Linked DNA regions of Homo sapiens. The protein of the gene in region 1 binds, or shares a complex with, the protein of each later gene. Each region holds a gene or a part of one and is shown in the gene's direction. Other genes may lie near its edges. The genes, in order: POLD1, POLD4 and POLD2.

The links.
Region 2: POLD1 (region 1) and POLD4 share a complex: the UniProt entries of both Homo sapiens proteins name them as parts of the tetrameric DNA polymerase delta complex.
Region 3: POLD1 (region 1) and POLD2 share a complex: the UniProt entries of both Homo sapiens proteins name them as parts of the tetrameric DNA polymerase delta complex.

Annotation. Positions count from the first base shown.
Region 1 is NC_000019.10:50,378,740-50,388,746, forward strand, and holds the start of POLD1 (DNA polymerase delta catalytic subunit), read left to right. Parts: upstream 1-5,607; 5' UTR 5,608-5,651; intron 5,652-7,195; exon of another isoform or gene 7,196-8,118; intron 8,119-8,920; exon of another isoform or gene 8,921-9,065; intron 9,066-10,007. Other genes in the region: NR1H2 (oxysterols receptor LXR-beta), read left to right, coding at 1-57, 263-442, 1,041-1,140, 3,227-3,435, 3,717-3,863. UniProt on the Homo sapiens protein: As the catalytic component of the trimeric (Pol-delta3 complex) and tetrameric DNA polymerase delta complexes (Pol-delta4 complex), plays a crucial role in high fidelity genome replication, including in lagging strand synthesis, and repair.
Region 2 is NC_000011.10:67,349,280-67,359,683, reverse strand, and holds POLD4 (DNA polymerase delta subunit 4), read left to right. Parts: upstream 1-6,137; 5' UTR 6,138-6,284; coding exon 6,285-6,381; exon of another isoform or gene 6,382-6,390; intron 6,391-6,606; coding exon 6,607-6,696; intron 6,697-6,881; coding exon 6,882-6,993; intron 6,994-7,664; coding exon 7,665-7,689; coding exon of another isoform or gene 7,690-7,717; 3' UTR 7,718-8,912; downstream 8,913-10,404. UniProt on the Homo sapiens protein: As a component of the tetrameric DNA polymerase delta complex (Pol-delta4), plays a role in high fidelity genome replication and repair.
Region 3 is NC_000007.14:44,114,035-44,123,245, reverse strand, and holds the end of POLD2 (DNA polymerase delta subunit 2), read left to right. Parts: exon of another isoform or gene 1-66; coding exon of another isoform or gene 67-67; exon of another isoform or gene 68-359; intron 360-786; exon of another isoform or gene 787-1,136; coding exon of another isoform or gene 1,137-1,192; coding exon 1,193-1,412; intron 1,413-5,181; coding exon 5,182-5,303; intron 5,304-5,503; coding exon 5,504-5,627; intron 5,628-5,998; coding exon 5,999-6,113; intron 6,114-6,230; coding exon 6,231-6,429; intron 6,430-6,735; coding exon 6,736-6,816; intron 6,817-6,973; coding exon 6,974-7,131; intron 7,132-7,352; coding exon 7,353-7,480; intron 7,481-7,849; coding exon 7,850-7,951; intron 7,952-8,300; coding exon 8,301-8,461; 3' UTR 8,462-8,566; downstream 8,567-9,211. Other genes in the region: AEBP1 (adipocyte enhancer-binding protein 1 precursor), read right to left, coding at 8,985-9,211. UniProt on the Homo sapiens protein: Accessory component of both the DNA polymerase delta complex and the DNA polymerase zeta complex.

The DNA of each region.
Region 1 (10,007 bases):
GTGGCGGCCCAACTGCAGTGCAACAAACGCTCCTTCTCCGACCAGCCCAAAGTCACGGTACTGCCCCCTCCACAACCTTGAGTGTGACGGTCCCAATGGGGTAGAGCCAGCTGGGCCATCACCCAGGGTGTGGGAGAATGAGGCTCCAGAGGGCAGGGGCTTTGGGAAGAGGATCCCCCAGGGTGCAGGCTTGGCCTCAAGGTGGCCACCCAGACTTAGGCTCACAAAGACCTGGGAGTGACCCTGGTCTCCTGTGTCCCAGCCCTGGCCCCTGGGCGCAGACCCCCAGTCCCGAGATGCCCGCCAGCAACGCTTTGCCCACTTCACGGAGCTGGCCATCATCTCAGTCCAGGAGATCGTGGACTTCGCTAAGCAAGTGCCTGGTTTCCTGCAGCTGGGCCGGGAGGACCAGATCGCCCTCCTGAAGGCATCCACTATCGAGGTAATGGTCCATCTGCCCACAAGGAACCCCAGAGATAGCTCCAGGACAGATGCTGGGAGCAGAGTTAAGGAAGACCAGTGCTTGCCGTTGTAGGATGACATTCCACGGCGAATAGAGTCTTCTATGAGCCAAGGAGAGAAAGGAAAAAGGGTCTGAGGCTGAGAAAATTGAGGATCAGGCTAGAGGCGCTATTGCAGAGAAAAGTTGCCAAAAAGGCTTTTCAGAGGAGTTAGCATTTGAATCAAAGTAGGGATAACATATAAGTATTGAGCACGTGCTGTATGCCAGGCTCTATTCCAAGTGTTGGCATATGGGGCAAAGAACAAAGCAGATCAAACCCCGTGCCCCAAACCTTGTGCTCACCTGGGGAAAGAGTATCCTAAGGAGATGGGGATGCAGCATGTGCGGAAGCCTGAAGTGGAGAAAGAGCTCGGGCTGTCTCACGTGATGGCTGCACGCTGGTGTGGCTGAGAGAACAGGGGGGAAGGGGACAAGGGATAATCCTGGTGAGATTAGACCCCCATTTGGGCCAGGAGGGGAGGGACTAGCAGCTGAAGGGTCACAGGGCTCAAGCTCCCCCTCCCGCTGCCGCCCTTAGATCATGCTGCTAGAGACAGCCAGGCGCTACAACCACGAGACAGAGTGTATCACCTTCTTGAAGGACTTCACCTACAGCAAGGACGACTTCCACCGTGCAGGTAGGGCCCAGGGGAGGCTTCGGGGAGGCTTGGCGCCCCTGCTGGCTGGAAGACCTGGGGCCAACTCATCCCTGTTGGAGTCTCTGTTTCTTTATCTCCAAAGTTGGGGTGAGGGTTGAGCCAAGGTGAGAGTGAGGTAAGAGTGCATGTGCCACGTGTGGTGGTGCACGCCAATAGTCCCAGCCACTCGAGGCTGAGGAGGGCAGATTGCTTGAGGCTATAGTGAGCCGTGATTGTGCGACGGCATTCCAGCCTGGTGACAGAGAAGACCGTGTCTCTATTTTTTAAAAAAAGCATGTATTGAGTGCCGACTCTGTACATTGGGTTGCAGTGGAAGTTGAGATGGGAGGAGCCCTGTTACCACATCAGGCATCTTGGTGGGCATTAGGAAAAGCATTCCCCGCCCCCGCCAAAACGTGGTCTCACCCAAGGGAGGCGGGCTGGAGCTCGGTCCATTGTGAAGCGGGCAGCCTTCTTTACTGTCTAGGGGAGCACTGCTTCCTGCCCTCTGAGAGCGCTAACCTGCGTGGGTGGGCTTCTGGAAGAAGGCCTGGGCAGTGAGAGGCACTGCCTAGGAAAAGGGTGGGAGGAGCATTGCTAGTGCTGCAGAGCATGCACCAGGGCCTCGCTCCCTCATTGTCCCACAATCTCTGGGGGACCTCTCTGTATTTCCCGACATCTGTCCAAACCCCACCCTCTCCCCTTCCTCTTACTCCGGCCCTTTCACCACCCGAGACGGTCCCAGTAACCCTTTTAGTATGAGCTTAGCAGGGCAGGGCTGCAGGGAAGCGTTTCTGGCAGAGGAGATTGGCGATTGCAGAGGCCCTGAGGTTGGGGAGAGCTGGTGGTTTGGAGGAACTACAGGGAGGCCCAGGCAGCTGGAGCACAAGGAGATGGGGTGGAGAGGAGGTCGGGAATCCCACCCTACCCCTTCCCAGCCGCTCCTCTGCCACCACCCTGGAACACTGCCAGGGTCCCCTTGAGGGGCCGCCTGCCTCCACCCCTGCCTGATGGGGCTGCTCACAGCACAGGCAGAAGGGTCCTGTCAGCACTTAAGGCTGCCCACTTCCCTCCTCCGCTCAGAACCCTCCGCGGCTCCCGTCTCACTGGGAGAAGAGCTAGAGTCCTCTCTGTGGCCCACAAAGCCCTTTAGGACCTGGCCTCGCTCACTCTCTGCCCTCAGCTCTCACCCTCTCCCCCTGTTCCAGCCACTCTGGCCTCTTACTGGCACCCATCCAGCATGCTGCAGCCAAGGGCCTGTGTACTTGGAGTTTCCTCTGCCCAGAACTAGGGGGACCAACTGGTCCTAGTTTGCCCAGGACCTTCCCAGTTTTAACACTGAAAGTCTCATGGCCTGGGTAGCCCCCGTCCCAAGTCATGGGAACAGCAGACGTTGGTCACCCTCACAATCCCTCATCTCCTTCGGATTGGTCACTGCTCCAGCGTCACCCAGAGCGCAGCCTTCCCTGCCCGCCTTGTGTAAAATAGAACCATGGCTCAGCAGGGCCCTTCACACTTCTCTGCACTGCCTGGTTCCATTGAACTCACAGCCCTCTGACAGGCTGGGCCTCTTCCTAATGTGTTTGTCTATGACCGGTCCCCTAGGCTCTCAAATGTAAGTGCTGGAGCCTGGCACGTGGCAGGTACTCAGTGACATTTGATGACTGAATGAACAAGTCAGTTTTGGGAATGAGTTTGGGCTTTACCTTGAGCAGTGGAAGCCAGCGCTGGGACCAGCACGATGTGACCTAGGTTTTAAAAGCTTCCCTTTGCCTTTGTGAAGGGGACAAGAATAGGGACTCGGGAAGCTGCAGCCACCGCCCAGGTGGGAAGGGAGGGTGGTGATAGGATAGTAGAAAATACTGAAGAAACATGCACCCTCATTCATTCCTTCACTGGGCAGCATGTGTGGCACACCTACTACATGCCAGCACTCATGGGCACGGGGCACAGGTGGACAGAAATGACAAGAACGCTGTAATTACTGCTGTGTTCCCAGCCCCAGAGACTGTGGGCAGCGCCAGGGTCCAGGATGTGGGGCACGGTTTCGGGCTGAGGGAGTCACGGGCTGCCTCCCGCCCCGCAGGCCTGCAGGTGGAGTTCATCAACCCCATCTTCGAGTTCTCGCGGGCCATGCGGCGGCTGGGCCTGGACGACGCTGAGTACGCCCTGCTCATCGCCATCAACATCTTCTCGGCCGACCGGCCCAACGTGCAGGAGCCGGGCCGCGTGGAGGCGTTGCAGCAGCCCTACGTGGAGGCGCTGCTGTCCTACACGCGCATCAAGAGGCCGCAGGTAGGGCCCCGCAGAGCCTCTGCGCAGAGCCAACTACGTCCCGCGGCCCACGTGGTCCGTTCAGGCTGGGTTCTGCCAGCCACACTGCCCTCCCCTCCGCAGAGTCTTTCCTCAGGCCCCACCCTGCTCGACTGGGAGCCAGGTCTAGTCCAAGCACAGAGGCGGGCCCCACGCTGGCTCCCACGCCTGGTCGGGGAGGGGCCCTCCTTTCTGTTGGGGTGGGCCTCCCAAAGCCTGGCAGGGCAGGGGCTCAGCCAGCGCCCACCTGCCTCCTCCCTCAGGACCAGCTGCGCTTCCCGCGCATGCTCATGAAGCTGGTGAGCCTGCGCACGCTGAGCTCTGTGCACTCGGAGCAGGTCTTCGCCTTGCGGCTCCAGGACAAGAAGCTGCCGCCTCTGCTGTCGGAGATCTGGGACGTCCACGAGTGAGGGGCTGGCCACCCAGCCCCACAGCCTTGCCTGACCACCCTCCAGCAGATAGACGCCGGCACCCCTTCCTCTTCCTAGGGTGGAAGGGGCCCTGGGCCGAGCCTGTAGACCTATCGGCTCTCATCCCTTGGGATAAGCCCCAGTCCAGGTCCAGGAGGCTCCCTCCCTGCCCAGCGAGTCTTCCAGAAGGGGTGAAAGGGTTGCAGGTCCCGACCACTGACCCTTCCCGGCTGCCCTCCCTCCCCAGCTTACACCTCAAGCCCAGCACGCAGTGCACCTTGAACAGAGGGAGGGGAGGACCCATGGCTCTCCCCCCTAGCCCGGGAGACCAGGGCCTTCCTCTTCCTCTGCTTTTATTTAATAAAAACTAAAAACAGAAACAGGAAAATAAAATATGAATACAATCCAGCCCGGAGCTGGAGTGCAAGATGGAGAGGGCGCGGGCTTCTAGGGACCTCAGTGACACTGGGTGCCCGAACCTGATTGAGCAGGTGGGACTGGGTGTCCCCAGGCTGTTGGGAAAAGGGTGGCACATAGGGTCCCAGTGTTGGGTGGTGTGTCGCCTGCTGTGAAAGTTCAGGACAGAGGCCTCAGCCTCAGGGTCACCTCCCTGGACAAGGTGAATCAGAACTCACCCTTGAAGGATAAACAGGATTTAAGTGAATGAGGGGACCTGGACTTCTGTCCGAACAACAAGTGTTTGCTGAGGCCTCCTGTGGGCCAGGCACTGGGTTGGCCATTCTAGAGATGGAGACATTCACCCAATAAATGTTTCCAGAGCATTAACTACAGTTAGGCACAATTCTAGGCACTGGAAACATCTGTGAACAAGATAACCATCCTCCTACCAAGACTCGGGGGATAGGGACTTTAATGAGCGTGGCACTGTGGTGGGGCTAGAGGAAATCAGGGAAGGTATCACAACAGAGGCAATCGCTGGGACCTAAAACAAGAGCCTGGGGGCTGGGCCTCCAAGTTGAGGGAACAGCACGTGCAAAGTTTGAAAGGAGAGACGCCAGGAGTTCGGAGCGAAGCGACGAAGTTCCTCCAATCCTTCCTGCCCCTGTGCCAGCCCTGAAGGAGCTGAATGAGCAATTCCAATCGAGGGCGAAAGGGGGGTTGGATGGAGGGATGCAACTTAAAGGTGTATTTATTTGGGGCGGGGAACAGCGGAAGTGAGAGTAGTTACCAATGATCACCTTATCCTAAGAGTAGTGTACCGGGCGCCCCACAAGTGTCCCTATCATGCGTTGTTGAGTCTAATTTACGTATAGGGAAACTGAAGCTAGGATGAAGGAGAACAGATCAAGCCAGGACTCTACCGCTTATCGGCCAGCCTCTGCGGGGATCTTGGGCGTCAGGTCACCAGCTGGCTGCTGGGCAGCGACGGGGCAGCGCTCCCTACACGGCCCCGGGCGAGAGGCGGGCGGGGGGACGCGGAGGATGCGCGCGCAACACCCGAGGGTGGGAGGAGAGAGAACAGAACCGCGGCGCGCCCAGACCGCACGAGGTCGTGAAGGTAGCCGCGCGGAGGGGCGTGGCTTCGGGCAGACAGGTCATGGGGAGGCGGAGTTAAGGGAATTTTTCAGCAAGGGGGCGAGGCCACTTCGGAAGCTGAGAGAGGGGGCGGGGCCTGCCCTGCAGTCGAACAAGCGGGGCGTGGCCTTGCCCGCACTTGGGCAGGCGGGGGCGTGGCCCGTCTCTGAGCGCCGCGGCTCTGGGCTTGCGCGCGCGGGAGTCAGGGGTCACGGCGGCGTAGGCTGTGGCGGGAAACGCTGTTTGAAGCGGGTGAGTAGAGGGGAAAAAGGGAGTTCGGGGCAGTGGGCCTGGTAGGGAACGGGGCTTGAGCAGCCAGGCACATAGATCTGAGAGACGGTTGCGAGGGCACCCTTTGGCCCGGGGGCGCGCAGGAGAGGGCAGGGGCCAGGGGTTTCCTGGGCGAGGGCGCGGGGACGAGCAGGAAAAGGCCGGGGTGGGGGTGGAATTCCTCGGCGGGCAGGGGGCGCATGCGCCGGGCACCGTGGGGCGGGACGTGGCCCGGGAGGAGCTGGGGGGACTGGGTGGTGCACGTGCGGGCTTGGTGTCATCCTGGATTCGCTGGGTGTTTGAGTACTCTGTGCCAGGCACTTTTCTGGAAGCAGGAACAAGTCAGAGAAGTCCCTGTCTCGGGAAGACAGACGGTAGACAAGTGATGAGTTTTAATAGATCAGTAAAGCAGTGCTCTGGGGCTGTGAGATGCTCTCAGAAGGAAACTAACGCAGGGTAACGTGATAATGAGCGAAGAGCCTGTTGCTTTAGCTGGAGTGGTCCAGAATCGACCGCTCTGGGACCCTCAAGTGCAAAGCCCTGAGGTGGAAGGAGCTTGGCGTATTTGTAGCAGGAGCCGAGGGGACGAGAGAAACACAGATGAGGTCGGAGTCATGATGGGGAACTAGATCCTATAGGGCCTTGTAAAACTTGGTATGGAATTTCTCCTTTATTCTAGGTTCAGCGGGGAGCCGTGGGAGGGTTTGAGCGTGGAAACAACACGATTCGCCCCATGTTTTGAAAAACTCACCACTGAGTGGAAATTGGATTGTAGCAGGAATAAGAATGGAAGGAGGGAGATCTGTTAGGAGGGAGAGCGTCCTGCAGGCAGAGAATCAGGCTCCGGTTACCTTTGCGGGCGGAGACAGGGGGACTGGCTGATGGACTGGGCGTAGGAGCAAGGGGAAGAGTCCAGGATGACTCCTGGGTTTGTGGTTTGAGCAGCAGGCTGGATGGGGAAGGCTAAGGGAGAAGCAGGTTGGGGTTGCCGCTCTGAAGGCAAAGATTAGTGGGGGAGTGAGTGGGCAGGGTTTAGAGCGGAGCCAGGAGTGGGCAGGGCGATGTCAGTGCCTCGCCTCAGCCCTTCCACTGAAGGAACTTGTTGCCACTGTCTTCTCTTTTTTTTTTTTTTTTTTTTGAGACAGAGTCTTGCTCTGTCACCCAGGCTGGAATGCAGTGGTGCAAACTCAGCTCATTGCAACCTCCGCCTCCCGAGTTCAGGCGAGTCTCGTGCCTCAGCCTCCTGAGTAGCTGGGATTACGGCACCCACTGCCATGCCCAGCTCATTTTTTGTATTTTTAGTAGAGATGGGGTTTCGCCGTGTTGGCCAGGCTGGTCTCGAACTCCTGACCTCAGGTGATCCACTTGCCTCGGCCTCCCAAAGTGCTGGGATTACAGGCGTGAGCCACCACGCACGGCCGCTTCTCCTCCTTCCTGCACTTCCCCCCCACAGGTCTCTCTTCCCCCTAGAGAGGTTCCTTCCCTCCCCCTGAAATGCTCTTCCCTCTCTTATGTGTTTCTGACAGCTGCTGTTTGGACAGGCCCTCTGCTGAGCACTGGGGAGCCAATGATCATTCAGTTTGGTTGGGGAAGGACAGGAGATTTCAGTCCAGAGTGCGCTGAGCTATGGCGGAGCAGTGATAGTCTTTGGGAGCCAAGAGAAGAACCTGTGCGCTCAGGGAAGACTCACCAGAGTGGTTGATATTCACAGGGAGTTTCAACTCACATGTCTTTTTTTTTTTGGTTTTTGAGACAGGGTCTTGCTCTGTCGCCCAGGCTGGAGTGCAGTGGCGCGATCTCGGCTCACTAACCTCCACCTCCCGGGTTCAAGCGATTCTCATGCCTCAGGCTTCCGAGTAGCTGGGATTACAGGTGTGTGCCACCACGCCCAGCTAATTTTTGTATTTTTAGTAGAGACAGGGTTTTGTCATGTTGCCCAGACTGGTCTCGAATCCCTGACCTCAAGTAATCCTCCCACCTCGGCCTCCCAAAGTGCTGGGATTACAGGTGTGAGCCACCACACCCGGCCTAAACTCATGTCTTGAAGTAACCGGACACTGTGCAGAGTGATGCTGGAGACCCCAACTTGGGCAAGATGCTGACTCCTTTTCTCAAGGAGCTCACAGGCTGAAAGGATCCCAGCTCTGCATTGTGCAATAACGAAAGTGGCACAAGGCGTTGTGGGAACCCTGAAGGGCAGCTGGTCAGCTTGGAGGAGCTAAGCCTGAGCTGAGTCTCTGGATGCAGTGGAGTTTCATGCAGCGAACACTGCCTAAGGCCTCCTGGGGGCCCACCCTGTGCTGGGTGATGCTAAGGTCCCAGAGGAGAGTCAGTCCTTGCTCTGCCATCCAGAGGTCCCTGGCTGGTAAGGGAGGAAGACACACACCCAGGCAGTCCAGAGACAGCAGTCACAGAGGCCTAGGGGAAGGACAAGGCCGAAAGCATGCAGGTGAGCCTGGGCAACATAGCAAGACCCTGTCTCTACAAAAAATACAAAAGCTAGGCCGGGCGCGGTGGCTAAGGCCTGTAATCCCAGCACTTTGGGAGGCCGAGGCGGGCAGATCATGAGGTCAGGAGACCAAGACCATCCTGGCTAACACGGTGAAACCCCGTCTCTACTAAAAATACAAAAAATTAGCCGGGCGTGGTGGTGGGCGCCTGTAATCCCAGCACTTTGGGAGGCCGAGGTGGACGGATCACTTGAGGTGAGGAGTTTGAGACCAGTCTGGCAGACATGGTGAAACTCTACTAAAAATACACAACTAGCTGGACATGGTGGGCGCCTGTAATCCCAGCTACCTGCGAGGCTGAGGCAGGAGAATCACTTGAGTCCAGGAGGCGGAGGTTGCAGTGAGCAAGATCCTTTCCCAAAAAAATATATAAATAAAAATAAAGCTGTGAGATTGGGCAAGATTGGATGAGGTCATTGAGGAAATGAGTGTCTCACTCATCGAGAAAACTGGTGTCTGGCCTGCAGCGAGCACGTGGTGTCATTTTGTTGCTGAATCTCTGTTAAGTGCTTGCTACCGAAGGGTCGTGAGAGGGGCAGAGGACAGTGTTTGCCAAGCTCTCATCCTGTGCCAGGGCCAATGAGAGGGGACACACAGGGGCCTTTCCTTCCTAATGCTGCTGTGCCTCCACTAACAAGAGCCCAGGTTTTGCCCCTGGTGACACCGTCCCTCCCACCGCACCCCCGCAGCCACAGCCAACTGACCAAGGGCAGCCAGTCAGCTCCTTCCTTCCTCCTCCAGCTTCAGCACTGACTCTGGGCTCCCACAAGCCCCTGCGCTTCCTCTGTCCCACCCGGGTCTCTCCTCGCAGATCATCACTCCCTGTCCCTCTCTGGCTACTTGCACAACCCGAAGCCAGAGCCGCTAACGACGCTTGCTTCTTCCTGTAAGTCACACATGTACGCGGTTGTCACCCAAAGAGCACAAACGCAGTCAAAGTCTTCCTCACACAAAACCCCCTGCACACGCTCACGGCTGCACCACTCACAAAAGGTGGAAGCAACCCTAATGTCCATCCACTGATGAAGGGATACGTCAGACGTGTTCTAGCCATACAGCGGAAAAGTACTCAGCAAAAAAGGGACACAGCACTGACGAAAGGCCGCCACACACATGAGCGATGAACACATTCAGAGAAAGCAGCCAGACACAAGAGGCTGCATATTCCAAGATCCCATTTATAGGAAATGCCCAGAATAGGCAGATCCATGGAGACAGAAAGTTAGATGAGTGGCTGCCAGGGGTGGGGGCAGATGGGCTGAATGCAGGGAGAGAGCTAAAGGATTTAGGCTTTTTGGGGTGATGAGAGAGTTCTAAAATTGACTGTGGTGATGGTTGCCTAACTCTGAACATACTAAATACCATTGAACTATATATACTTTAAATGGGTGAATTGTATAGTATGTGAATTATAGCTCAATAAAGCAGTTAGCAAATGAAGTCTTCTACCCTGTCCCCCAGGAAACCAGTTTCTTAGCTCTCCTTATAGAATGATGCATTAAAAGCAAATAGATTTATACATATGCCCTGCATTACAATAAAAAAGACGTCTACATACTCCCTGCATTACAATAAAAAAGACGTCTACATACTCCCTGCATTAAAAGCAAAAAGATTTCTACATACTCTTCTGCCCACCTTGTAAATTTGTTACTATTTTCATTTTATATATTTCCCCCTTAATATTTTGAAAAGTTTCAAACCTGCAGAGAAGGTACAAATTGAGTACAGTGAACAGCCATGGCCCTTTGCCTAGATTCACTGGCTGTTGGCATGACACCTCATTTGCTTTATGCTTTATCCAAGCACATGCATATACCTGTACCTT
Region 2 (10,404 bases), on another chromosome or scaffold:
ATCCCAGCACTTTGGGAGGCTGAGGCGGGCGGATCATGAGGTCAGGAGATAGAGACCATCCTGACCAACATGGTGAAACCCTGTCTCTACTAAAACTACAAAAATCAGTTGTATGTGGTGGCGCACGCCTGTAGTCCCAGCTACTCTGGAGGTGAGGCAAGAGAATCGCTTGAACCCAGGAGGCGGAGATTGCAGTGAGCCGAGATGGCACCACTGCACTCCAGCCTGGTGACAGAGCGAGACTCCATCTCAAAAAAACCCAAACAAACAAAAAACAAAACAAAACAAAATTAGCCAGGTGTGGTGGCGCACCTGTGGTCCCAGCTACAAGGAAGGCTGAGGCAGGAGGATCGCTTGAGCCTGGGAGGTCGAGGCTGCAGTAAACTGTGATCACACCACTGCACTCCAGCCTAGGTGAAGGAAGGAGCTGATCAACAGTCTCAGATGCCCCAGAGGAGCTCAAGAAGAATGCTGAGCAAAATCCAGTGGCTTTGGCAATCAGGAAGTCTCAGGCAACCTTTGTGAAACAGCAGGTGAGAGGCAGCCACCGAGTTGTGAGATTAATGAAGGCCATGGTGGGCAGAAGTAGAAGGGGTAAATCAAGTCCCTCAGAGTTTGCTGGTTAAGAGACCAGGCGCAGCAGCTTGCACCTGTAATCCCAGCACTTTGGGAGGCCAAGGAGGGCGGATCACTTAAGGTCAGGAGTTTGAGACCAGCCTGGCCAACATGGCCATCTCTACTAAAACTATAAAAATTAGCCAGGCCTGGTGGTGCATGCCTATAATCCCAGCTACTCAGGAGGCTAAGGCAGGAGAATCGCTTGAACCTGGGAGGTGGAGGCTGCAGTGAGCCAAGATCCCACCACTGCACTCCAGCCTGGGCGACAAGAGCGAGACTGTCTCAAAAAACACACAAACAAAAAAACACCATCTAGAAAGGTTAGCAAGATCACAGAAGGCTTTTGTTTGTTTTGTTGTTGTTGTTGTTAAATAGAAGTGATCTAAACATGTTATTGCTGAGTGAGTAGGGGGCGGGTGGAGAAAAATGGGGAGGTTTAGAGAATGGAATAAGGAGACAACCACAGGAGAGCCAAAGGGTGTCTGGGCAGCCAAATAGAACCCGGTGATATCAGCAGGCACCTTTGCCGTGGACCTGTCACCATGGGCAGTGACATTCCTTAGCATTTCAGAGGGAGGGACAGACTGGAGAAGAGGGCATTTTCCAAGGCTGAGGATTGGCAAGGCAAGAATGGCAGAGAATCAAGGGGGATTCTAGGCTGCTGGAAACTACTGGAAATTGGCTGGGAGCCAGAGCCAGGCAGTAAGGGAAGAGTGGTCAGTGGAGGGAAACAGAGGAGGGGAATAGGCTGGGAGAAGAATCCTGAATGGGGAGCGCTGGGGTTCCTGCATGCTGAGGACGCAGAACGCTCCCACAGTGGCGGTGGCGTGGTGGAGGGAGAGGGGGATGAGAGCACCATCAGAGAGGGCACTTCAGAGTGTGAGTTCTTGAACTCTCTCAAATAGCCCCTAATGATGGTGACAGGGGATGTGAGCTGCTCGTTTGTGTTTTGGCACTGTGTCCCACAGGCATCTTGTGAAAATGCCAGCACCACAGCACAGGGAGCACCTGGTAGATCACAGGGCACTGGCGTTTTCTGTGAGTGAGTCATTGGTTTTCCATCCAGAGCTGCTTCAGGAGATCCAATGAGTTTTGTTGGTTATCGAGGTTCTACCTCCTAAGAATGGCTTCAGAGTCAGAGGCCCAGAGGCTAACATGAGACTCTAAGGCATTGCAATGTCAAAGGGTGGAGGGTGTGTTATCTCTAGTATTCCTCATGTCCCCACAAGGATCGGGAGAGTGGGCAAGAGAAGACCCTCCTCTCCATCATCTCCAGATAGAATGTAAGGATTAGAAATCTTGTCATCATCTTGAGTGCTTAGAAACACACCTATGTTTGAAAGAATGAGCATAAAATGGAGAACTATCACTTGAGGCAGGGGCAACCTCTGGGGGAAGTGGGGCTAGAGGAGGCTCTGATGGGAGATGGCACAATACTCAGATCTTGCCAGTTTTCCACTTTTGCAAAGACTGACCTACCGTCCAAGACTTACAGGCCGCCTCATGATATGAGAGGCTCATTCAAGCACTGAGTTTACACACACATGCACACACACACTCTCACTTGCCACAGCCACCCTAAATGGGGAAGGGCAAAGGGAGGCCCTCTGTTCCCCTTAACCTAGAGGGCAAGGGCTAGTGACTCAGTCCTGGCTGGGCACTCCGATGGGCAGCTCCCTCTCAGCTTCCCCTTCTGCTGTGGAGCTACAACTGTCCCTGCCTTTGTTCCTTCAATTCTCAAGCTCCCTGACTCAGCCTCGTTCCTGAACTTCCCAGCAGGGGACAAAGCCCTTGTCAGTGGGGTGGTGTGGGGGCAGTGGCAGTGAGGGGGATCTGGGGGAAAGCTGTAGAGTCAGAGTTCCAGTCCTTTTCCCAGTCTCAACCTTCAGGGTCCCTCAGCCTTGCCAGTTCAGTGGTCACCTCTAGGCTCCTCCCCAACTTGCCCAGATCTCTCTCTGAGGCCAGACTGATGGGGTGGAAATGGTTAACTAGAACCTTCCTCCCACCCAGCTGGGCAAAGTCTGACACCTGGTGGCCAAGGTGAGTAATGGCCAGAAGGCCCCTTTTCAAGTCTTCCCGGAACTGCTCCAGAGCCTGGATGGCCAAGGTGAAAGAGGAGGTGACTAGAGAAGAAGGTGTGGAGGGTGGTAGGAGCAGGACAGAAGATGCAGTGGTAGAAAAACCCAGAGACCCCATCCTTTCCACTCAAGCTGCTGCGATGGAAGCACATTAGGCCAGAGAACCTGGACCAGGGGAAGAGGGAGTGTCTGGGAAGGCAGTGAGGGACTAGGAAGGACTGCCTGAAAGAATTCTGGCCCACAGGGTGAGGAATGGGGCCCACGGTGTGTGAGTATGTTGGGGGCCGGGGCCAGGGGTATTCTGGCTGCCCAGAATCTCCTGAGTGGGACTGACTTTCAGCTCAGGGTGGGTGGCAGGGCCCAAGGGCCTGAGGAAGGGGGGTACTGGCGAGAGGGAAGAAGAGCTGGATCCACCCCACAGCCCACTGGGTCCCAGGCAGCTGCTCCCCTCTCTCCACCTGCCTCCAGCTTCCCAGCTCTACCTGGCTCTCCCCACAAACCTCATGGTGAGGTGGGGGAAGGGAATGCAGGTGCAGTGCTGAGGCCCCCATTCTACCACATTGTCTGAGCTAAGCCAGACCTAATCCTTCCCTTGAGTGCAGTCAGCGGTGGGCCTCAGCCCCTGGGAAGGTGCCGGGTTCCTGTTTCAGTTCTTTTCTCTCCTGGACCCCCAGGACTCTGGGCTTGGCCCTGAAGCAAGGGTCTTGGGTATTGTTACCAGGCTGAGGTGCAAAGGTCACTCCTACTAGTCTCATCACCAGCCTCTGGGTGTCGGGGCTGACACAAGGGTCTCAGGACATTCCCCCAGGGAGAGAGAACTCAGCACCCAACCCAGAACTCTGGCCTGGCCATCCAGTCTGAAGCCTGAACAGGCTCCAAGACAGCAGTTTAGGGAATGAGGCCAGGATGCTGCCTGAGTAGGTGAAGGGGTTCTAGGCAAGAAGGTACAGAAGGTGGATGGGGTTGGACAGCAAAGAAGGAAAAGACCTGAGGACAGGAAGGTCAAGGTCCAGCCTAGTCCTCAGCGCACCTTAGGGATTCAGGTGCTGAGTCAGGGCATGCCAGTTGGACAGGGATGGTTCCAAAATCCCTGGGTGCCAACTCTTTCCTAGGGGCTCCACCCTACTGCCATCTAAGAGAGAGCAGCAATGCTGCCTGCAGAGAGTTCCCTCAACTCCAAGGCAGAAAGCCAGGCCTAGGGTGCCTGCACTTGAGCTGACCACTCTGAATCTTTTTCTTGGGTGTGGGGGTAGCTGAAGCCTGAGGGAGACATCTTCCAGCCTGGGTTGGGGCCTGTGCCAGGCAAAGCTGGGGAAGCTGGCAGGGACAGCCCAGCCAACATCTACAGAGCAGCTCAGGATGCCAGAGGCTGCCCAAGGAGAAAAGGCAATAGGCCCAGGCGGTGGTAGGAGCTACTGTGGCTGCCCAGCGGCACACCCCATTTCACGCTCCCTGGGCGGTGGCAGGGCCCCACGGCTATCAGCTTTCAGGGGTGGGAGGGACTGGGAATGAGGAGGGGTCTGCCCCACCCATGGCTCCCTACTCCCTCAGGGCTTGGTGGACTCAGGAGGTGGGTGCCACACACCTCTGGAAACAGCCCAGGAACCCTTGCCAAGACCCTCTGGGGAGGGGTAGTCAATCCCCCAGAGCCTAGACGCCATCCCTACCTAGCATGCTCAGCACCTGACTGGACTCAGCACCTAGGCCCTTCCCAGCCCTGGTAGACAGGGCCTCCCTGCTTCCATCACTAACTCCGCAGGGACACTGTCTCCCTGAATGTGGGCCCCACTTAGTCCGCAAGGCAGATGGGGGGATTAGACTAGGCCCAGCCCAAACAATACAGCAGAAAGGGCCCTCCAGCTCCATGCAGTGCCCCCACAAGCTCCCTCCTCTAGGACGCCGATGGGGAGAGCCAGGCAGGACGTGGACCCTGAAGACATGGCCTGCTCCTCTGCCTCCCCTCTGGTGGTCTCCTTTCCAGAGCAGCTTCCTCCCTTGTGCCCACGTGTACCAGTGGCTTAGCCCTCTTCCAGTGCAGAACACCCAGACCCCAGAGCAGGGAAAGGAGGAGGCAGAGGCCTCTGAGCAGGCAGCAGCCCAGGAGTCTGTGCCCCACCCTCCCAGTATCCCTGGAAGGAAGAACCGGATGGGATCTCTGGAGGGTGATTAGAGCTGGGCTGGTCCCTGTGCTGGTTCCCAGACTCCCACTGGCCAGTACTTTTGCCTCCTGCCAGGAAGTTGGTGAGGGGGAGGCAGCAGTATGGGTGAGTCAGTGATGACAGGAGCCCAAGGGACAAAGGTCATGGGTGGAGAATTGAGAGACATTGTTTACAGCAGTCCACCTCCTCCAGGAGGCCTTCCAATGCTAATCATCCCTGTGGTCCTAACCAATCTCTGACCCACCCTTTCCCTCTTCTGGTAGGAATTATAGCCTCTCACTGACAACTGTGCATCTGTCTGCCTTGTGACAGTGAGCTCCTGGGGTGCAAGAGAGACTGTGGTTTGATTGGGGCCCTACAATGCCTGTGACTATCAGCAGTGATAATCATTTAGCTATACTTCCTACTTTCAAAAACTTTTTGACATCTATTTTAATTAACATGTGGGAAAGTGCTTAGAACAGTACTTGGCACATGGTACGTGCAATGAGTGTTAGGTTTATTATTAATATTTTCTGCTCAGACTCACATTATTGTGAGAGACAGGGCAGATTTTGCCAGTGAAGAACTAGGGATCCAAACACATTGTGGTGGGGGGACCAGACCCTTGCTCTGCCTTCCTACTCAGTATGGAATCTTCCTGACTGGTGGGGCGGGCCGGACACGACTTGGGACCCCAGGAGAGTCAAAACGGCAAACACTTACTCGGACTAAGAGTGGGCAGCATCTTTGGGCACAGACTGTGAGAAAGGAGGTTTCAGAACCCATGGGCTTCTCCAGCCAGGTCTCCTGGGGCCAGTGGGGGTTGGGTGGGAGCCGGGAAGGGGCCTGGATTAGCCCAAACTCTCTTCAGACCTCCAGACCTGCCCCCACAAGGCGGGGCGGGCCAAAGGACCGAGTGAAGGCTCCAGCTGGACTCTAGGGAGTTACAAACTGGCCACGGGGATTAGCGAAGCTGAAAAGAACATTTGCCTAGGAAGGGAAAACGGGAAGTGAGAGGCTGAAGATAACTCTCCTGAAGTCTCTCGGGACCCACAGCAGACCAATGGGGGCCGGGGAAGGTGGTGAAGTCGGGGCATCCCGACAGGTCCCCCGCCCCAGCCTGCCCCTCCTCCCGCGGCCCACAGCTGAGGCACCGCCCCGCCCCTCACCCTACACTGCCTACCATTGGCTAGCGCCAGGGCCCCGCCCCGCATAGGCGGCCTGCCATTGGCTGAAGTCTTTCCTGTTTGCGTGCTTTTGGGGGTGGGGGAGGCGTCCCTCCCTGGACCCCGGCGACTTCCTCTCTCGGTTTGTCTGGGTCATCTTGTCTGCCCGCCGCTGGCCTGGCCCCGTCTGTCTCTCTCAGCAGCTGTCTTTCTCGCGCCCACTGGCCGGTCTCTCCTCTTCCCCGCAGTTGCCTCCTTCTCTGCCTGCCTGGGTGGCCGCCATGGGCCGGAAGCGGCTCATCACTGATTCCTACCCGGTTGTGAAGAGGAGGGAGGGGCCCGCTGGGCACAGCAAGGGGGAGCTGGCACCCGAGCTAGGTCTCTGAGGTGTGAGGGAGGCAGGAGGAGTGGACACGGAGGGGCCTAGAGGAGGCCCCTAGAGGGGCGGAGGGGCCGATGGAAAGGGAAAGGTGGCCTGTCCTCCCCTCCCGACACCAGGTCTAGCTGCGGGGTGGCAGAGGCAAAGCGGTGGTGAGGAAGGCTGGGAGGTGAGGGGCAGGAGACTGAAGCCAACCTCGTACTGAAGAGCAGCTGTCATTGCAGGGGAGGAGCCCCAGCCCCGCGACGAGGAGGAAGCGGAGCTGGAGCTGCTGAGGCAGTTTGACCTGGCCTGGCAGTACGGGCCCTGCACCGGTGAGAACCCACCCAGCCCCACGGAGGCGCCTCTCCCAGCCAGTCACCCACACGTCTCTGAAGTCACCCAAGCGCTTGCGTGACTCTGACCCTCAGGAACTGTCTCCCCCCAACACACACATTCTCCAGCTCAGACTCTACCCCACCCCCCACAAGTCTCCAGAGTCTTCTTCCCACCCTGGCAGGGATCACACGGCTGCAGCGCTGGTGTCGGGCCAAGCAGATGGGCTTGGAGCCTCCCCCAGAGGTGTGGCAGGTGCTGAAGACCCACCCCGGAGACCCCCGCTTCCAGTGCAGGTCAGAGACAGGCCGGGAGGGCTTTCAGGGGAGCCAGGGCCTTCTCCAGGCACTGTCACCCTGCTGTCCTGACCTGAGGGAGAAATGGATGGAGGGTTGGAAGGCCTTGCTGAACAGGCAAGAAGATTCTATGAGGTGCCTGGCTCAGGAGGACACGCCACTATAATAATTCTTTTTTTTTGAGACAGAGTCTTGCTCTGTTGCCCAGGCTGGAGTGCAGTGGCGCGATCTCGGCTCACTGCAAACTCCGCCTCTCGGGTTCACGCCATTCTCCTGTCTCAGCCTCCCAAGTAGCTGGGACTACAGGCGCCCGCCAACACGCCCGGCTAATTTTTTCTATTTTTAGTAGAGACAGGGTTTCACCGTGTTAGCCAGGATGGTCTTGATCTCCTGACCTCGTGATCCCACCCACCTCAGCCTCCCAAAGTGCTGGGATTACAGGCGTGAGCCACCACACCCGGCCAATAATTCTTACCTCTACAAGCTAGTGGGGGGCAAAGGTACACCCAGGACCCAAGGAACTATCTATTTAGAACTGAGGGGTTTCCCAAGGACTATGGGCATGGCCAAGAATAAGCTGGTGAAATCAGATCCAGGGACTCAACAACTGATTCTCTGTTTCTCTCTCTCTCTCTCTGGGGTATCCCTCCCTCCCACCCCATCTTCCACAGTCTCTGGCATCTCTATCCCCTATGAGGCACCACGTAAGACCTCCTGCCCTTAGCTCTCTTGCTCACCACCCAAGAACCTCAGGACAGAAGCGAGAGCCCATTGCTCCTGCTCAGCTCAGCCCGGCTGCGGAGGAACCCTTGGCAGGCAGAACCTGGAGGTGTCAGAGGCTCAACTCCTCCATCTAACCAGCAGGCTCCCAGAGTCCCCGGAAGAGCCTGCGCAGCTGAAGCAGAGTGCTTCTAGATGGAGAGTGGTCACTGGGGAAAAGGACCTGGCCATCACCTTCCAATACCTGCTGCCTGTCTCCCTGACCCATGATCTGGCAAGTTAGGCACAGTCAGACATGGACAGTTGATCCATGAGGAAAAGATGCTCTCCCACCTAAGGCCAGGAATCTGAGAGCAGGACTGGCTGAGCTCCCAGGGCAAGGGGTTCACTAATGCTTATCAATAAAGAATATTGAGCCTGGAATCCTGACCTTCAGTCCTTTACTGTGGCCCTGCTTTGACTGGCAGTCCCTAGCAAGTTAGGAGATGAGAGAGGCACCACTACAGCTCTTTTCCTTCAAGAAAGTCCTAGGCCGAAGAGGGAGGAGACAGTCATCTTGAGACGGATCAAGTCCTCGGAAGAGCTGAGCGACCTCTGGTGCCCCCTGGTGGCCCACAGGGAAACTACTCATGACTCACCTTCTGGAGCAGCCAGGGAAAACCTACCTGACTAGCCAGCCACCTGCCTTGCTAAGCGGTGCCCACCTCACAAACATGGGTGCTTTGCCAGAGAAGGACCCCTGGGGTCCATAGCTCATGAAGTCCAAACATATCTATACATTCCCAGCAAGCACCTCTGGCTTCCCACATCGGGGGCCACCTTGATCCAAAGCAGGGCTGGCGAGGGTCTCAACTTGCAGGACCTGCTCAGACATGACCATCATCTGAGGGGCTTTGGTAAGAAACTGATGGCTGGGCGCGGTGGCTCACACCTGTAATCCCAGCACTTTGGGAGGCCAAGGAGGGCGGATCACGAGGTCAAGAGATCGAGACCATCCTGGCTAACATGGTGAAACCCCATCTCTACTAAAAATACAAAAAATTAGCCAGGTGTAGTCCCAGCTACTCAGGAGGCTGAGGCAGGAGAATGGCGTGAACCCGGGAGGCAGAGCTGGCAGTGAGCTGAGACCGCATCACTGCACTCCAGCCTGGGTGACAGAGAGAGACCCCGTCTCAAAAAATAAAAAAATACAAAATAAAGGCTGGGCGCAGTGGCTCACGCCCGTAATCCCAGCACTTTGGGAGGCCGAGGGAGGTGGATCAGGAGGTCAGGAGATCGAGACCATCCTGGCTAACATAGTGAAACCCCGTCTCTACTAAAAATACAAAAAAACTTAGCCAGGCCTGGTGGCGGGCACCTGTAGTCCCAGCTACTTGGGAGGCTGAGGCAGGAGAATGGCGTGAACCCGGGAGGCGGAGCTTGCAGTGAGCCGAGATCGCGCCACTGCACTCCAGCCTGGGCGACTGAGCAAGACTCCATCTCAAAAAAAAAAAAAAAAAAAAGAAAGAAAAAAGAAACTGATGGTGCTGGGGGATGGAGGAGAACTGGCTGGAGCCAGAAACAATGCCCAGGGGACCCAGGGTCAGGGTATGACATGGAGAATAGAGTCAGTAACCGCTTCTATAGTGTTACCTTCATCTACTGTGGCAGCCCTCTATCCTGGGGGTAGATGGAGGCAGCACTAGTAAGTTCTTGGAAACAGGCCTAGAGGGCAGCTAAGTGGCCTGTGTAGCCCCCGTCTGAGCACTGATCATGTCTCAGGTACTTTAAATGTATTACCTCGAATCCTCCTAAAAAACCTTCCAGGTAGGTTTTACTGAGGGGGAACTGAAACTAAGAAAGGTTAAGTAAAGTTGCCCAAAAGCACACAGCAGGCAAGAGGCAGTGCAGTGACCAGGGGCCACTTGCATTAACCTCTTCCAGACTATGCCATACCTCCTGCCCAGCTGCTAAGCACTCACTATGTGCCAGGCACCAAAGGTCCCCTTGGGGTATTACTAATGGTCAGGAGATGGGCAAAAACAAACACGTAAGTTAATTATGACAGGTAGCAGTCAGTAGTAAGCAAAATCAGAGTTGGGATCAGAAAGGGTCCAAGGATGCCAGGGGCGCTATGTTAGAGAGACTGGTCAGGGAAGGCCCTCTGCTAAGGTGGCATTTGAGCAGAGACTTGAAGGAAGGAAGGGAGCAAGGTCTGCATCTGAGGGTTCCAGGCAGAAGGAGCAACAAGGAGAAGCTTCCTGAGGAAGGAGTGTTTCCAGCCTGCTCCAGGAAAGGCACTGAGGAGGCCAGTGAGGCTGGGGGCCAGGGAGTGAGGAAGGGTAGTGGGAATTGAGGGCAGACAGGCAGCGGGCTGGTCCCTAGGGCCATGATAAGAAACTGGATTTGATTCTGAGTGAGAGGGGAGGATACTGGAGGGCTTGAAGCCAATAAATGACAGAGTCAAGCTTATGTTTCGAAAACATTACTCTGTTGGTGGAAAACAAGATTGTGGAGCTGGGGAAAACAGAGGTAGCAAAACCACTCAGGAGGCTACTGAAGTTGGCCTCATGAGAGCTGAGGGTGATCTGGACCAGCGTGGGGAGGTGGACTGCTCAGAAGTGGCCAGGTACGCTCTGTATTTTTAAGGAAGAGCTGACTGGCAGGACTTGCCTATTGGTCGACTGTGGGATTTAAGAGGGAGGAGCCAAG
Region 3 (9,211 bases), on another chromosome or scaffold:
GTGTCCCAGGCCAGTGCTGTCCCGTGGAGATAGATTGCAAGCCGCTAGGGAATTTTTTAACTTTCTAGTAGGTGTACGAAAAAAGTAAAACGAAACAAATCAATTGGAGTAAATCCATAAATATATTCAAACTATTATTTCAATTGTATGTGAAAAAATTATTGGGATATTCTTTGTACTATTCTTAGAAATCCATTGTGTGTCCAACCCAAACATCACAGTTGGACTCACCACATCTCCTGTACTTCGTAGCCCTAGGTGGCTAGTGGCATAAGACACAAAAATCTCAGCTCTCCTGGAGCTTATGGTCTAGTTGGAGCAGGCAGACAATACATTTAAAATATACAGTTTGTTAGAAGGTAAATGTTGTAAACAACAATAACAGTTGAAGTACTGGGGAGAGTTGCAGTTGTAAATCAGATGGGCAGGGCACAAGGTAACATTTGAGTAAAGATGTAAGAACTTGAAGGAGATGGGCAAGTGAGCTCTATAAGTATACGGGAGAGGGGCAAGCAAGAGTTCAGAGGCCCCTTGCTGTGGGGAGGGATCCAAGGTGGAGGAGTGGGAACCAGGAGGGGAGAGGACCAGTGGAGCAGATCTCATAGGCAGTTGTAAGGACTTGGGGCCTTATTCAATGAAATGAGGACACTTTGGAGAGTTTTGAACAGAGCAGTGACTGATTTATGTTTTGGTTTTGGTTTAGTTCTATTATTATTTAATAATAGGCTTATTATTTCACAGAAGTTTTATTTAATAAGGCAGACCTCTTGTCTGGAAATGAGACAGGTGCCGGAGAGCTGGATGGAGGCAGATCGGGAATTCCATTTGGGGCAAACTGAACTTGATTGAGACCCTGGTAGTTGTCCAGATGGAACAGGACACCTGAGTCTAGGGTTCGGGAAGAACTCCAGATGGGACAAACACTCCTAGCTTTCCTTTTCTCTTTTTGGATGACCGCTACAGGGTGAGACATCGGTATCCAGGCACGATAAATTTCCAAGTGGACACAATGTCTGGTGTCAACTACAGCTGTTCTCCTTCTTTTCCCAGTATCCTTTGGGTGCAGTGAGACACCAGGAGAGCTGCTGCTTTGGGGGATGGACAGGGGCAGCAGGAATGCCTTTGTGTTTTCGCAGTGAACCTCCTTGGCCTGGGCGAAGCTGTGTGGACCAAGCAAGTCAGGAGTGTGGCCATGTTTTCTGAGCAGGCTGCCCAGAGGGCCCACACTCTACTGTCCCCACCATCAGCCAACAATGCCACCTTTGCCCGGGTGCCAGTGGCAACCTACACCAACTCCTCACAACCCTTCCGGCTAGGAGAGCGCAGCTTTAGCCGGCAGTATGCCCACATTTATGCCACCCGCCTCATCCAAATGAGACCCTTCCTGGAGAACCGGGCCCAGCAGCACTGGGGTAAGTGAGAGTTTGGGAAGGTGCTTCCCCCACAGCATCCCTGAACTTAGAAGTGTTCTGCAAGAGAATGGGAACAGTTTATCTAATTGATCCCACTTCCTGTTACCTTGGGAAAATTAACCTCTTTTTCCCTCAGTTTCTTCTTAAGATAGTAACAAGGATTAAATTAAGTAATTTGTGGGTTTGGAGTTAGTTTTAGTTCAGAGGCTGGTTGGAGATGAGGACTTAGTTCTGGCGGTGATGGCGATTACTTCACTGGCAGAGGAAAATGGTTTTCCTATCTTCAGTGCAGATTATTCAGGTATTTGCCTGTGCTGTAGCCAGAGAGCCCCTCAGTGTGGCAAGCCTGGCGCCAGGCACCAGGAGCCAAGACTGGTGAGGATGCACTCTCTGGTCTCGAGGGGACCCCCTCTGTTCACTCATGTCTGTTTGCCTCTCCTCCTGGCCCCCATATTTGCTGGCCATGAATTTTCCTGTCCCTTGGGCCCTCTGTCTTTCCTAATAAAGTGGCCTGCCCAACACAACCCTTGTTCTTTGCCCCCATTTCTTCCCTGGTGATCTCTCCTGCAGTTGGATTACTCTTGGTGGTGAAGCAGGGACCCCCATCTCCCCCTTTGAGTTTATTTGAGTTTTAGGTGCTGCTGCATTCCCCCATTCCTACCACTTACATAAGAGTGGCTTTCCAGGTAATTTTCAAATCCATCTCCTATTATATTTTTAAACTGAGGATTTAGTAGGTGAGACCAGGTCTTACTCATTTTTACTGTCCTTGGCACCAGGCAAAATGGATCTCAGCCCTAGTTGCACATTGGAATCCCCTGGGGAGCTTTGAGAAGCCCATCTCATCCCATGCCAAGCCAAGATCAATTCTCGTTATAGGCAGGCAGGAGAACCCTGGGCCTAGAAATCTAGCTAGAACCTCAAATTCATTAGGGATATGTATTAGTCCATTTTCACATTGCTATAAAAAACTACCTGAGATAGGGTAATTTATAAAGAAAAGAGGTTTAATTGACTCACAGTTCCTCATGGCTGGGGAGGCCTCAGGAAACTTAACAATCATGGCAGAAGGTGAAGGGAAAGCAAGGCTCTTTTACATGATAGCAGGAGAGAGAGAGCAAGGGGAACTGCCAACCATTTTTAAACCATCAGATCGCATGATGGCTTGATCTCACTCACCATCACAAGAACAGCATGGGGGAAATCCACCCCCACAATCCAGTCACCTCCCACCAGGTCCCTCCGTCAACACCGTGTGGATTATAATTCCAGATGAGATGTGGGTGGGGACACAGAGCCAAATCATATCAGGATGTTTTCTGTTTTGTTTACCTGAGACAAAGTGCTGTTCACCTCTCCTCTCCCACATAATCAGGGGCTCCCTCCTGCGGCTCCGGTAGCTTTTCCTCACTTTCCTTTCAGCCCTCGGGACACCTTCCTTGGCTCCTTTCAGAGCTCAGTTACTACTTGGGCCCAATGTCAATGCCACCTTCTAGATTCTTTCCGGCAGCACCTCCTCTGGTCGCACATTTCTCTTCCAGTTATTGGAGCTGTCAAAAAAGCTCCCCAGTGATGGACGATAGCGATTTCACTGTGCTCACAGACTGGTCAGGAAACCAAACAGCTGCCACAGTGAATGTGTTGATAGCAGCGGGGCAGCAGTAGCACTCGCTCACAGGCCTGGTGGTTGGTGCTGGCCCCCACCCTGAATACCTACATGTGGCTTCTCCATGTGGCCTGTGCATCCTCACTGAAGCTCAGCCTGTCTCTCCAAATTGGTCTTTCCACTCACCTGTTCCCCAAACCTGCCCAGACCTTCCTGCTGTAGGCTTTTCCCTTCACTTGGCACACTCTTTCCCTTGTCTTCCCATGGCCCCATCTAAGCCCCACTGTCAGCTGAAGTGTTATATTCTTTGAGGGGCCACCTGAAGCCACCTTGCAATGAGGGCCTCCGTTTTCTACCTCAGCTCACCATTTGTTCACAGCACTTGTCACTGTGGCGAGTTACTTGTCTATGGCCTGTTGTCGTTCTCCTGCCTAGACCCAGTGGGCTGAGTGGGGGCAAGTGTTGGCTTTTATGTCCAGTTTTGATCTTGGTGCCAGCACATTGCCTGGGTGGAAGCATGTCCTACTATCGGTTACAGGGATGTCATTCTGCCCAGTGCTCAGGGGCATACACTTGGATCCCAGTTGTGTGCCCTTGGACACATTGCTTAACCTCTCTGTGCATCAGTTGGGTGATAATATCTACTCCTGGCACATTTTCAGCGTTGGCTGAGTTACATGTACAGTGCTTAGGCCACCTGGGGGAGAGTAAGAGTGGGATACGTGAGGATGTGGAGTCTGTTGCATTTCTGTCTGCTGCTGGCATCCTTCTTGTCTTGTTTTGAGTTGCTCGCCTCTGTCTGCTCCCTAGGGCGTAGATTTGAGGAATATTCCTGGTTCTTCCCAGGCAGCAGGGGCTCAGGCTGTGCTGGAGTCAGCTAGGCTAAGGGGCTGGTCTGGCATCCGCGTTGTCCTGTCACCTCCTTGGTGTTTTCTCCAGGCCTGGATCTGTGCTGTGTGGGCACCTGTATTCCTCCCTCCTGCCCTCACTGATTCTCCATACCTTTCTTCTCGAGAGTGCCAAGCCCCTCCCATGTGTTCTTGTTCATACCTAGGATCCCGGGAAGGGGCTGGGGAAGACGGTGCCCAGGTGCCCTGGGTAAACAAAGCCACCTGACTCCACGGGAATGGAATGGGTGGAGGGGATCTGAGGTCTGCATTTTGAGTATCTCTGGTCTCAGAGGATGAAGCATTTGGTGGGGGTTGGGGGTGGGGGGTAGGGTGGAAGAATCTAAAGTCTTAAAAGAAAATGGCAGTTATTTGTGGGACAGGGCTGTGTTGAGACTTGGCATGCTTCTTTTTAAGAGTCAGTGTTGTAATTTAGGTATAAGTGAAGCAGTACTTTGTATTAGTTTCCTGTAGGCGCTGTAACAAAGCACCACAAACTGGTTGACTTAAAACAACAGACATGGCCGGGCACGGTGGCTCACGACTGTAATCCCAGCACTTTGGGAGGCCGAGGCGGGCAGATCACAAGGTCAAGAGATTGAGACCATCCTGGCTAACACGGTGAAACCCTGTCTCTACTAAAAATACAAAAAAAAAAAAATTAGCTGGGCGTGGTGGCACACGCCTGTAGTCCCAGCTACTCGGGAGGCTGAGGCAGGAGAATGGCGTGAACCCGGGAGGCGGAGCTTGCAGTGAGCTGAGATCGCGCCACTGCACTCCAGCCTGGATGACAGCGAGACTCCGCCTCAAAACAAAAACAAAAACAGAAACAACAATAACAGAAAAACACAGACATTTACTCTCTGGCAGTTCTGGAGGCCAGAAGTTGAAATCCAGATGTCAGCAGGATTGGCTCCTTCTGAAGGCCCGAGGGGAGGGTCCTTCCTGGCCTCCTCCCTGGTGTTCCTGGGCTTGTGGCCGCATCACTCCGCTCTGCCCGTCTTCACACTCCCTCTTGTCTGTGTGTCTGTCTCTCTGTTCTCATGAGGACACTTGGCATCCAGGGCCCAACCACACCCAGAGTCCCTGGTCTCCTGTGGCTGACTCACTTTTTACTGTCACCGTGAAGTCCAGGGGGTCCTTGTACTTGATGTTCTCTCCTGGCAAGGCCAGGGCCCTGTGATTGGCCTCTCATGGAGTGCTGGGCAGGGCCTCCATGGCCTCTGTCGGGCGGGGGGGCTACTTCATCTCTGAGTCTGTACCCCTCGTGTCCCAGGCAGTGGAGTGGGAGTGAAGAAGCTGTGTGAACTGCAGCCTGAGGAGAAGTGCTGTGTGGTGGGCACTCTGTTCAAGGCCATGCCGCTGCAGCCCTCCATCCTGCGGGAGGTCAGCGAGGAGGTGAGGCAGGGTGCTACACAGTGGGGCCGCCAGGCAGACCTGGCCTCCCACTAGAACACCTCCCTGGAGGTGGGGTTGTGGGGAAGCAGGTTCAGAGACAATGGACTCCAGAGGGGTGGGGGCTGCGGTGCCAGCTCACTAACACCAGAGCTTTGGTGGGCTCTGGCCCCAAGATTATACCTCCTGTCTCTGCATTCCAGCACAACCTGCTCCCCCAGCCTCCTCGGAGTAAATACATACACCCAGATGACGAGCTGGTCTTGGAAGATGAACTGCAGCGTATCAAACTAAAAGGCACCATTGACGTGTCAAAGCTGGTTACGGGTAGGGAGCCCAATGAGAGGATGTGGGTGATGCAGGTGAAGAGCCCAGCGGTGGTGTGTTAGGGATGGTGTGAGTGGGGAGCCTGGGGGGAGTGGGGGGGTGTGGCCTGGGCACACGTGTGTTCTTGAGGAGGTAGGTGAGGCTCCAGGCGGTCGGAGGCCATCAGATTGGGTGAGACCTGGCTGGGAGATGGGTCTCCCCACCTCCATCCAAGGGCAGTGACTCCAGGAAGCAGGCATGCATCCTGGAGTCCTAGGTGAGAATTCACCAATGTGGTTGTGGAGAACTGGCTTGTTTTGCCCGTTGGGGTGACTGGAAGGAGTGGTAGCACCTGGGGCTCCCTGCTCAGGCCTGATGCCACTGCTCCCCAGGGACTGTCCTGGCTGTGTTTGGCTCCGTGAGAGACGACGGGAAGTTTCTGGTGGAGGACTATTGCTTTGCTGACCTTGCTCCCCAGAAGCCCGCACCCCCACTTGACACAGATAGGTGAGCAGCAGTTCTCGGGAGCTGGAACCAGCTCATGGTCAGTGGAATCTTTGAGTTGCACCTAGGAGGGGCTGCCTCCCTTCTCGGCACCCTGGAGGACCCCACCTTCTCCCGCAGGTTTGTGCTACTGGTGTCCGGCCTGGGCCTGGGTGGCGGTGGAGGCGAGAGCCTGCTGGGCACCCAGCTGCTGGTGGATGTGGTGACGGGGCAGCTTGGGGACGAAGGGGAGCAGTGCAGCGCCGCCCACGTCTCCCGGGTTATCCTCGCTGGCAACCTCCTCAGCCACAGCACCCAGAGCAGGGATTCTATCAATAAGGTATGGAGCCCACCTGGCTGCATTCAGCCCCAGCCCAGGAGCCTGCAAGCCTGTAAGACCCTCCTTCCCCAGGGCGAGTAGGGTACCCTGTGAGGTCTCGCAGGTCGGTGGGAAGCGCCCTGCAGTGACTCTGGGGCCTCCTGCAATGGGGCTCCTCATGCCCAGGCCCTCGCTGAGGATGGTGGGAGGCTTGAAGGGAGTGAGGGTCTATGGGACAACAACTGCATCTTCCAGCTGGTGGGGCTCTACTCTCCTCTGAGCCTGGGACTCGCCTGGGCCTGATGGCCTTCTGGGCTTCTATTCCAGGCCAAATACCTCACCAAGAAAACCCAGGCAGCCAGCGTGGAGGCTGTTAAGATGCTGGATGAGATCCTCCTGCAGCTGAGCGTGAGCGAGCTGGGGGCTGGAGGGGTGATGGGGATTGCAGTCTTCAAAGCTGCCACTGGGCAACAGAAGGCAGGCAGGAGGGCAGGGGGAGTGGCCGGAGTTGGTGTAGGGGGCTCCTTCGGGGCCCTGTGAGCTCTCCCTGCCCTGTGCCTTCCAGGCCTCAGTGCCCGTGGACGTGATGCCAGGCGAGTTTGATCCCACCAATTACACGCTCCCCCAGCAGCCCCTCCACCCCTGCATGTTCCCGCTGGCCACTGCCTACTCCACGCTCCAGCTGGTCACCAACCCCTACCAGGCCACCATTGATGGAGTCAGGTAGCTGGCACAGCCACACTTCAGTCTGACCCAGCCTTTTGCCTCAGGAGGCACAAAGAAGGGAGGGGAGGGAGGGCCCAGGAAGGTGGCAGGGCTGCAGAGGCCCACCTAGCATCTGTTCCTTCTCTCTGGGGCATCCCCACAAGAGCGCCAGATGAGCTCTGGGCTGACCACTATGGGTGGCACCCAAAGCCAAGAGTCAGCTGAGCTTTGCCTTGCAGATTTTTGGGGACATCAGGACAGAACGTGAGTGACATTTTCCGATACAGCAGCATGGAGGATCACTTGGAGATCCTGGAGTGGACCCTGCGGGTCCGTCACATCAGCCCCACAGCCCCTGACACTCTAGGTAACAGGCTCAGCCATACAGGGTGGGAGCAGAGGGCCAGGAGGCCTGGCAGGACCCTGAAGTGCACAGGGTCCCCCTGTGGGTTTGCACTTGCCAGCATTGCTGAGAACTGTCTGAGGAGAAGTTCAGAGGCTTGGCACCTGCTCTGGAAGCTACTCTGGAATCTTAATTCTAAGGCCAATGGCTGCCCACCCCAACGGGCAGCAACAGCAGGGCCAAGGTCTTGTGACAATGTCTGGAGGTGCCCCTATTGTCACACTGGGGGTCTCCTACTGGCCTGCAATGGGAGGAGGGGCTGCAGCCCCACATCCTGTGCAGAGTGCTAGTGCTGAGGCGGAACCCTCCTCAGAGCTGCCCCTTCTCCTCCAGGTTGTTACCCCTTCTACAAAACTGACCCGTTCATCTTCCCAGAGTGCCCGCATGTCTACTTTTGTGGCAACACCCCCAGCTTTGGCTCCAAAATCATCCGAGGTAATTTTTGTCTTCTGGGGGCCCAGGCTGATTTGCTGATTTGCTCTCACCTGGGGACAAGGTTCACAGAGAAGAAAACCTGCATTGTGGAGTCCCCCTGGCCCTTGTGGGATGGACAGCTGAGGTCTTCTGCACAGCTGCCATTTCACTGTGGGAGCCAAGCTGCCTCGCCAGCTGGGCAGGGACTGGAACGGCTCCCAGCCTGTGTGCCTCTCAAGGCTAATCTCTGGTCTCCTATTGTCACTGCCCCACTGTGTGCCAATGGGGACTCCTGTTTATTTCTGGCAGCTTCTCTTTGAGGCAGGACTTACTTGGAACCTACAGTGGGTCCTATGTGACTTCTTTGCAGGTCCTGAGGACCAGACAGTGCTGTTGGTGACTGTCCCTGACTTCAGTGCCACGCAGACCGCCTGCCTTGTGAACCTGCGCAGCCTGGCCTGCCAGCCCATCAGCTTCTCGGGCTTCGGGGCAGAGGACGATGACCTGGGAGGCCTGGGGCTGGGCCCCTGACTCAAAAAAGTGGTTTTGACCAGAGAGGCCCAGATGGAGGCTGTTCATTCCCTGCAGTGTCGGCATTGTAAATAAAGCCTGAGCACTTGCTGATGCGAGCCTTGAGCCCTGGGCACTCTGGCTATGGGACTCCTGCAGGGGTGCCCACAGTGACCATAGCCCATGCACCCACCAGCCGGTCTCCCTCCTCCCCATCCCTGACACCTCAGAATGTGAGCAGTCCGTGCCATGAGCTTGTTTTATTGGAGTGACCTTGGCTCCCTCCCTCTGCCCCTACTCCAACACTGCAGCAACCCCATCTCTTACGAGACTGGCAGGTGGAGCAGGAGCCTCTACACAGCCTCTGGCTCTTAGGTCCCAGTCATGTTTGCACCCCCTCAAAGGGGCAGGACCAGCCCTTCCTTTCAGTGTCCATACCAGGGGCCTTCCATGTGCTGATGGGTGATGTGACTGTGGTCAGCAGGCTTGGGAAGTGCTGCTGCTGTAGCTTGAGTTGGGCTGGGGTCTTGGTAGGACGCTGATCTCAGAAGTCCCCAAAGTTCACTGTGTAGGTCTCTACTGTTGTGAAGGGGAATGCCTGGCCAGTGGCTATCTCCTCCTCTTTCTCCTCCTCCTCCTCTTCCTCAAACTCGGGTTCCAGCTGGGTCTCAAACTCAGGCTCCAACTGGGTCTCAAACTCGGGCTCCACCTTGGTCCCAAACTCGGGCTCCACCTCGGTCCCAAACTCTGTCACCACCTCTGTGTAGGTCT